3 separate regions of the Homo sapiens genome follow, and regions 1 and 2 are each linked to region 3. Evidence: fine-mapped expression QTL. A gene starts in region 3. Each other region holds a variant in brackets. All regions are shown on one strand. Distances are from middle to middle. Region 1 has its middle 7.8 kb from the start of SNORA104. Region 2 overlaps ADGRE3 (adhesion G protein-coupled receptor E3). Region 3 holds the start of CLEC17A (C-type lectin domain containing 17A).

Region 1 (2,853 bases), 32 kb after region 3:
TCACTGCAACCTCTGCTTTCCAGGTTTAACTGGTTCTTCTGCCTCAGCCTCCTGAATAGCTGGGATTTCAGGCACGTGCCACCATGCCTGGCTAATTTTTGTATTTTTAGTAGAGACAGGGCTTTGCCATGTTGGCCAGGCTGGTCTCGAACTCCTGACCTCAAGTGATCCGCCCACCTCAGCCCCCTAAAGTGCTAAGATTACAGGCGTGAGCCACCATGCCTGGCCTTATTTTATTTTTTGAGACAAGGTCTCACTCTGTCGCCCAGGCTGGAGTGCAGTGTTGTAATCATAGCTCACTGAAGCCTCAAACACCTGAGCTCAAGAAATCCTCCGTCCTCAGACTCCTGTATAACTAGAACTACAGGTGTGCCCCCACCACACCCAGCTAATTTTAATTTTTTTTTTTTTTTGTATAGACAGGGGTCTTGCTTTGTTGCCCAGACTGGGCTTAAACTCCTGGTCTCAAACAATCCTCCTGCTTCAGCCTCCTAAAATACAAGGATTGCGATCAATTTATTGATCAATAAGCTCCCTTAATCAATAGCAGAATCTTTCCTGTTTTGTCTGAGAACAGGTGCTTATAGCAAGGAGACTGTGAGGAGAGCAGGTGGTGGGAGAGGTCGGAGCTGATTTCACTTCCTGTTTCTTTGATTTGTTTTAAATCTACTTGTTCTTTTATTTCGTTATTAAAAAAATTTTTTTTGAGATGGAGTGTCACTCTGTCACCCAGGCTGGAGTACAGTGGCATGATCTCGGCTCACTGCAACCTCCTCCTCCTGGGTACAAGCGATTCTTGTGCCTCAGCCTCCTGAGTAGCTGGGATTACAGGTGTGCGCCACCACATCCGGCTAATTTTTGTATTATTAGTAGAGACGGCATTTCGCCACTTTGGCCAGGCTGGTCTCGAACTCCTGACCTCAAGTGATCCACCCGCCTTGGCCTCTCAAAGTGCTGGGATTACAGGTGTGAGCCACTGCACCCAGCCTCGTTATTTATTTTTAAGAGATGGGTTCTCAGGACGTGGCCCAGGCTGGAGTGCAGTGGCATTTCACAGGCACGACCCCACTACTGAGTTTTGGTTCTGTCTGTCCTCTCTTCTCACCTCTGCCCACCTCTGCAGCTGCCCTGATGCATCACTACCAAAGCCAGCTCCTGTACTGTCCGCAGCCTGCTGAGTGGGTGGGTGTCGTGTTGTAAACCCTCCACCCAGGGGACTGTTATGTCAAGCAACTTTATCTGGGGTCAGGGGAAGTTCCCACATTTCAGAAGAGGGAAGTTGTTTTCTGATATGCGTATTGAGAAATGGGGAAGCAGGGGTCTGTGGTCACGTCTCTAGGAGGCCCCTGGTGGAACTGGTCCCAACCTATCTCCCTTCCACATCTCTCATGATTATCTAATTGCAGAGAGGTAAATATGAAAGAGGTCACTTTTTACCACTTTAGGTCCAGGGGAGCAACAGTTGGATAAAAATAATAACCATGGTTTATCAAACATATATTGTGTGGTAAATAAATGCAGTGGCTCTCATTGAATCTTCACCATGACTTTGTGAGGTTGGAATATTTACCAACGCCCGCCAATCTTTTTTTTTTTTTGGGCAGAGTCTCACTCTGTCTCCCAGGCTGGAGTGCAGTGGTGTGATCTCGGCTCACTGCAACCTTTGCCTCCTGGGTTCAAGCCATTCTTCTGCCTCTGCCTCCCAAGTAGTTGGGATTACAGGTACACCGTAATGCCCAGTGAATTTTTTCGTATTTT[T/C]ACTAGAGATGGGGTTTTGCCATGTTGGCCAGGCTGGTCTCAAACCCCTGGCTTCAAGTGATCTGCCTGCCTTAGCCTCCCAACGTGCTGCGTGCTGGGATTATAGGTGTGAGCCACTGTGCCCGGCCCCCATTTTTTTTTTTTTTTAAAGACAGGGTCTCACTCTGTCACCCAGGCTGAAGTGCAGTGGTGCAATCACAGCTCATTGTGGCCTCAACCTCCTGGGCTCAAGTGATCCTCCCACCTCAGCCTCCCAAGTAGCTGTGGCTATAGGTGTGTGCCACTACACCTGGCTAACCAACCCCATTTTATACCTGGGCAAACTGAGGCCCAGAGGTGGGGTCTCACGGCTTGTCCATTGTCATTTAGTGGGTAAATGGCAGAACTGGGATTCAGATTCCATCTGTGCCTCCCACTGTTTGTTGATCTCTTTCTACAGCTGCCTTCTTTTTTTTTTTTTTTTTTTTTTTGAGATGGAGTCTCACTCTGTTGCCCAGGCTGGAGTGCAGTGGTGTGATCTTGGCTCACTGCAACTTCCATCTCCCACCCCAGCTCCCTCGTTCCTCGGGAGAGGTGACTCTGAGATGCATGTTCCACATTATCTCCTGAAAGTCCCCACTAGGGTAAAGCTCCACCTGCCTAGAGAGATAGCCTGCTCAACTAACACATTTTTGGTTAATTTTTAAAATTAAAAAAAATTTTTTTTAGAGAGACAGCATCTCTGGCCAGGTGTGGTGGCTCACGCCTGTAATCCCAGCACTTTGGGAGGCCGAGGCAGGTGGATCGCTTGAGGCCATGAGTTCGAGACCAGCCTGGGCAACATGTTGAAACCCCATCTCTACTAAAAAATACAAAAATTAGCCGGGCGTGGTGGTGCGTGCCTGTAATCCCAGCTACTCAGGAGGCTGAGGCAGGAGATTTGCTTGAACCCGGGAGGCGAAAGTTACAGTGAGCTGAGATTATGCCACTGCACTCCAGCCTGGGCAACAGAGAGACTCTGCTAAAAAAAAAAAAAAATTAGAGAGACAGGTTCTCGCTGTGTTGCCCAACCTAGAGTGCAGTGGTGCAATCATAGCTCACTGCAACATTGAACTC
Region 2 (2,500 bases), 48 kb after region 3:
TGGGGTTTCGCCATGTTCGTCAGGCTGGTCTCAAACTCCTGAGCACAAGTGATCCCCCTGTGCTGGCCTCCCAAAGTGCTGGGATTACAGGCGTGAGCCACTGCACCCTGCCGATTGGAAACTTTTTCTGAAATAGGGCAGAACTGCTTGGGTGTTTTTTTCCATGTAACTTAAGGTAGTAATGTAAATAAAATAGTAGTTGGAAAAAAAATAATTCATGTGAAGTGGTGTGTTAGCTGCATTGTTGATCTCCACGATTCACTCCTTTGTAGTTGTATTACACTCTGTCTTAGTCTCTTGGTGGGTTGAGTGTTCTTTTCTCATTGACTTTGGGCTTGGGTGTGTGACTTTCTTTGGCTAATGGGATATTAGTAGAGGAAGAATCACAGGCTTGAGTGACCTTGCCCAGTAGGGTCTGCCTCTTTGTGATTTCAGCATTGTTAGGAGAAGAATATTTGCTGGGGAGTTGCTCCCCCTTCTGCTTAAGCCTCAGGATGAGTCACAAGGAGCAGGCCTAAATCTGATCTGCATCCTGGAGCAAAGGCAAGCTGAGCTCAGCTAAGATCAGGTGAACCCCAATAGACCTGTAGACCCCAGAATAAGAAAAGCAAATATTTGTGTTTAAACCAATGAGATTTTTTGAGGTTGTTTGTTACACAGCATTAGCTGACTATTACGAGTGGGAAAACTGAGAAAAAGGCATGATTTTTTTTTGACATAGCAATTATTTATATTCTGAAATGTGTTAATAAATGATGTATCTTAACAACTAGTAGCATTTTTAAAGTAGAGAAAATAGAGAGAGTGTTTACAGGTGGATTATAATCTCATGTGGAACATTTAGAGAATGTCAACTTAAATCCCCATTGAACTCCATTTCCAAAATTTTCTTAAGTTTAAATAACAAAGAAAGGGGTCAGTGTTTACCTGCTGGCTGAGGAGGCAGTAGACCAAGAAGATGAAGAAGCCTTGGAGGCTGTTGATGATGGTGAAGAGGTAGGCCATGACCTGGGCAGCTGGACCCACCTGTAGCAAGCCCAGACACCATGTGCAGCCCAGGATGAAGAGCTGAGCTGTTGCTTTGAAAGCCAGCATCCTGGGAGGAGGAAGTCAGAGATTAGGATGTCAAAAAACTAATAATGAGCATGAACACCCCTCTAGTTAGCTGTTAATAGTAAGAACTCTGGAGCTAGACTACCTGAGTTTAAATGGAAGCCAGCACTGGCTACCTGTGTGATCTTGTGAAAGCTGCTTTACCTTCTTGCAACTCAGCTCCCTCAT[C/CTTATT]TTATTTTATTTTATTTTATTTTATTTTATTTTTGAGATGGAGTCTTGCTCTGTTGCCCAGGCTGGAGCACAATGACATGATCTCGACTCACTGCAACCTCCACCTCCAGGGTTCAAGTGATTCTCCTGCCTCAGCCTCCCCAGTAGCTGGGACTAACTACAGGCATGCACCATCATGCCCTGCTAATTTTTGTTATTTTTAGTGGAGATGGGGTTTCGCCATGTTGACCAGGCTGGTCTTGAACTCCTGACCTCAAGAGATCCACCCATCTTGGCCTCCCAAAGTATTGGGATTAAAGGCGTGAACCACTGCACCCAGCCTCAGTTCCCTTATCTTAATAATTGTCCTATTTCGTGGGGTTGCTATAAAGATTACATGAGACTTTAATGGGAAAGTATTTAGGACAATGTATGGGACAAAGTTAGTACCAGACATGCATAAGGCATTTGAAAACCTGGGTGCTTTCTCTCTCACTCTTATCATTTATAGACAGGGGTCATATAATTTTTTTTGTTGAGACGGAGTCTCGCTCTGTGGCCCAGGCTGGAGTGCAGTGGTGTGATCTCAGCTCATGGGTTCAAGCGATTCTCCAGCCTCAGCCTCCCGAGTAGCTGGGATTACAGGCACGTCACCACACCCAGCTAATCTTTGTATTTTTAGTAGAGAAGGGGTTTCACCATGTTGGCCAGGCTGGTCTCGAACGACTGACCTCAAATAATCCACCTGCCTCGGCCTCCCAAAGTGTTGGGATTACAGGTGTGAGCCACCCCACCCGGCCGGGGTCATATAATTTGTTATTCAAACAGGAAGGCTTTTGTGATCAAAAGGAGGTGTACTGTTCCTAACAGAAAGAAATGATAAATGTTTGAGGTGATGAGTACCTTAAATACCCTGATTTGATCATTGCACATTTTATGCATGAATCAAAATATCACAAATACTTTGTAAATGTATATAAATATTATATATCAATAAGAATAAAAATAATAATAAAAAATGAAAGGGATACTATTAATAATTACATTGTGTCGACAGACATAAACTGAGACTGTTCCAGGTAAGCTGAGATATGAGGCCATCCTATTTATAGTATTTATGGCATATATACACACACAATATATATATGTACATATATATTTTATATACACTATCACAACATATAATCACAATATATAGTGATAGTGTATATAAAAATATACATTGTGTTATATATGTATA
Region 3 (2,853 bases):
CCTCCCGGGTTCAAGCGATTCTTCTGCCGCAGCCACCCGAGTAGCTGGCATTACAGGTGCCCGCTATCATGTCCAGCTATTCTTTTTTTTTTTGTAACTTTAGTAGAGATGGGATTTCATCATGTTGGCCAGGCTGGTCTCGAATGCCTGACCTCAAGTGATCCACCTGTCTGAGCCTCCCGAAGTGTTGGGATTACAGGCGTGAGCCACCGCGCCTGGCCAGAAATGGATTATATGGATTATTTTATTTTATTTTTTTGAGATGGAGTTTCACTCTTGTTGCCCAGGCAGGAGTGCAATGATGTGATCTCGGCTCACTGCAACCTCTACCTCCCGAGTTCAAACGATTCTCCTGCCTCAGCCTCCTGAGTAGCTGGGATTACAGGTGCGCGCCACCATATCTGGCTAATTTTGTATTTTTAGTAGAGATGGGATTTCACCATGTTGGCCAAGCTGGTCTTAAACTCCTGACCTCACGTGATCCACCCACCTCGGCCTCCCAAAGTGTTGGGATTACAGGTGTGAGCCACTGCACCCGGCCAGATTATTTTATAGTTCTGGAGTCAGGAGACCAACATCAGTCTCACTGCTGAAACCCAGGTGTTCATGGGCTGGGCCATGCTTCTTTAAGAGGCTGCAGCGTGAGAATCCATTTTCTTGCTGTTTCCAGCCTCTGCAGTTGCATTCTTTAGCATATGGCTCCTTCTTGCATCTTCAAAGCCAGCATAACTTTAGTGACCACATTGCCTTTTTTTTGTGTCAAATCTCCTTCTGTTTCCCTTCTACGAGGACCCTTGTAATGCCATTTTTTTTTTTTTTTGAGACGGAGTCTCGCTCTGTCACCCAGGCTGGAGTGCAGTGGTGCGATCTCGGCTCACTGCAAGCTCCACCTCCTGGGTTCACGCCATTCTCCTCCCTCAGCCTCCCGAGTAGCTGGGACCACAGGCACCCGCCACCACACCCAGCTAATTTTTTGTATTTTTAGTGGAGACGGAGTTTCACTGTGTAAGCCAGGATGGTCTCGATCTCCTGACCTCGTGATCTGCCTGTCTCGGCCTCCCAAAGTGCTGGGATTACAGGCGTGAGCCACGATGCCTGGCCTGTAAAGCCATTTAAGGCCCACCTAGGTAATCCAGGATAAACCATCCATCTCAAGACCCTTAATTAATTAATTAATATTTAATGTTTTTTAAAAAATTAATTTATTTATTTATTGAGACAGAGTCTCACTCTGTCACTCAGGCTGGAGTGCAGTGGCGTGATCTCGGCTAACTGCAACCTCCATCTCCCAGGTTCAAGCGATTCTCCTGCCTCAGCCTCCTGAGTAGCTGGGATTACAGGCGCCTGCCACTGCGCCTGGCTAATTTTTGTATTTTTAGTAGAGACTGGGTTTCACCATGTTGGCCAACCTGGTCTCGAACTCCTGGCCTTAAGTGATCCATCCACCTCAGCCTCTAAAAGTGCTGGGATTCCAGGCGAGAGCCACCACACCAGGCCAGTTGTCATTATTCCTTCTGTGCGTGAATCCAAACTGGGGAGAAAGGCTCTGTGTGTATGTGTGTGTGTGTGTGTGTGTGTGTTTGTGTGAGCACGTGTGAGGTCTGAGGGCTTCCTGTCAAAATGAATTTGCATGTATTTGACTTTGAAAGGAAAAGGGAACTGAGAGAGCCCCCAGACGCCTGAGTCGGAGAGACAGGGGGCAGAGGTTGCCAAGCCCTGGCTGCCACTTGTCAGGTTCCCTGTGCTAGACATGCATAATCTGTATTCCATCACTGGGTACCCGGACCCACCAGGTAAGGCCCCGGCCAGGCTGGGGCTGGGGCCTAGGTGTGGTCAGGACCCAGGGTACAGAATCCCCACCATGGGGCAGCTGAGGCAGAGACCAGGGCTTGAGGGATGGAGGGAGGAGGGAATGGCTGGGCTCTGACTTGCCTTTCCCCTGGAAGGGACCATGGAGGAGGAGGAGGAGGATGATGACTATGAGAACTCAACACCTCCCTACAAGGACCTTCCTCCCAAGCCAGGTAAGAGGACTTTTTGGAGTGTGACCTGGGGGAATACAGGGAATGGGGTCTCCAGTGGGCATTGGTTGGGCATTGTAGACACATAGTCAGTCTCCTCTGTATCCAGCCCATGCCGGGCACTGTGGAACCCACACCCTGCCCAGGACGACCTGTCAGTCTGATGGCGGAGGTGGGTTTGGGCACAGTCTTGGTGAGCAGGGTGAGAGAGGAGGGGTCAGGAGATTGGCAAAATCCTTGGGGGACTGAGGGCTCAAATAGAGGAAGGGACTTTGGGGTGGGGCTTGAGGGATGAGTAGACATATCTTAAGAAGAGAAGTCCAGGAGAGAACAGTTAGGTGCAAAGTCTCTGAGTTACAAAAGCTGGTGCTTGAGAAACTGGGAGTGGACTGTGGGCTCCCAGTCTCCTCACCTTTCTACCCAAAGCCCAGGTTTTATTTAGACTTGGATCTCAAACCCAAGGCATAGCACAGGGTTCAACAAGAGACTGATAAGTGGTTGTTAAAGTGGAGGTTTGGGCCAGCTGCAGTGGTGTGCGTCTGTAGTCTTGATACTTTGGGAGGTCAAGGTGGGAGGATCGCTTGAGGACAGGAATTTGAGACCAGCCAGGGCAACATAGCAAGACCCTATCTCTGCCAAAAAAAAAAAAAAATAGAGGTTTGGGCCGTGTGTGGTGGCACATGTCTGTAGTCCCAGCTACTTGGGAGGCTGAGTCAGTAGGATCACTTGAGCCCAGGAGTTCTGGGCGATTGTGAACTAGGCGATCGGGCGTCTGCACTAAGTTTGGCATCAATATGGTGATGTTTTGGGAGCAGGGGACCACCAGGTTGCC

Evidence for each region. PIP is the estimated chance that this variant, and not a neighbour inherited with it, causes the effect.
Region 1: its variant is fine-mapped to the expression of CLEC17A in whole blood (INTERVAL, PIP above 0.99).
Region 2: its variant is fine-mapped to the expression of CLEC17A in whole blood (INTERVAL, PIP 0.96).

What each region holds. Positions count from the first base shown.
Region 1 is chr19:14,612,998-14,615,850 of GRCh38, forward strand. It overlaps a transcript of ADGRE3 not described here. Among named protein-coding and RNA genes, the nearest start is that of SNORA104, 7.8 kb to the right of the region's middle. RefSeq lists a silencer at 1,229-1,278. The variant T/C (reference allele first, on the strand shown) is at 1,759.
Region 2 is chr19:14,629,112-14,631,611 of GRCh38, forward strand. It overlaps ADGRE3 (adhesion G protein-coupled receptor E3), which reads right to left. Exons shown (of 16, transcript NM_032571.5): 14 at 928-1,096. Among named protein-coding and RNA genes, the nearest start is that of SNORA104, 8.1 kb to the left of the region's middle. The variant C/CTTATT (reference allele first, on the strand shown) is at 1,282.
Region 3 is chr19:14,581,411-14,584,263 of GRCh38, forward strand. CLEC17A (C-type lectin domain containing 17A) reads left to right here and starts at 1,674. Exons shown (of 14, transcript NM_001204118.2): 1 at 1,674-1,793; 2 at 1,947-2,024. The coding sequence starts at 1,751. It also overlaps the pseudogene RN7SL337P. RefSeq lists a silencer at 1,304-1,447 and an enhancer at 1,789-1,958.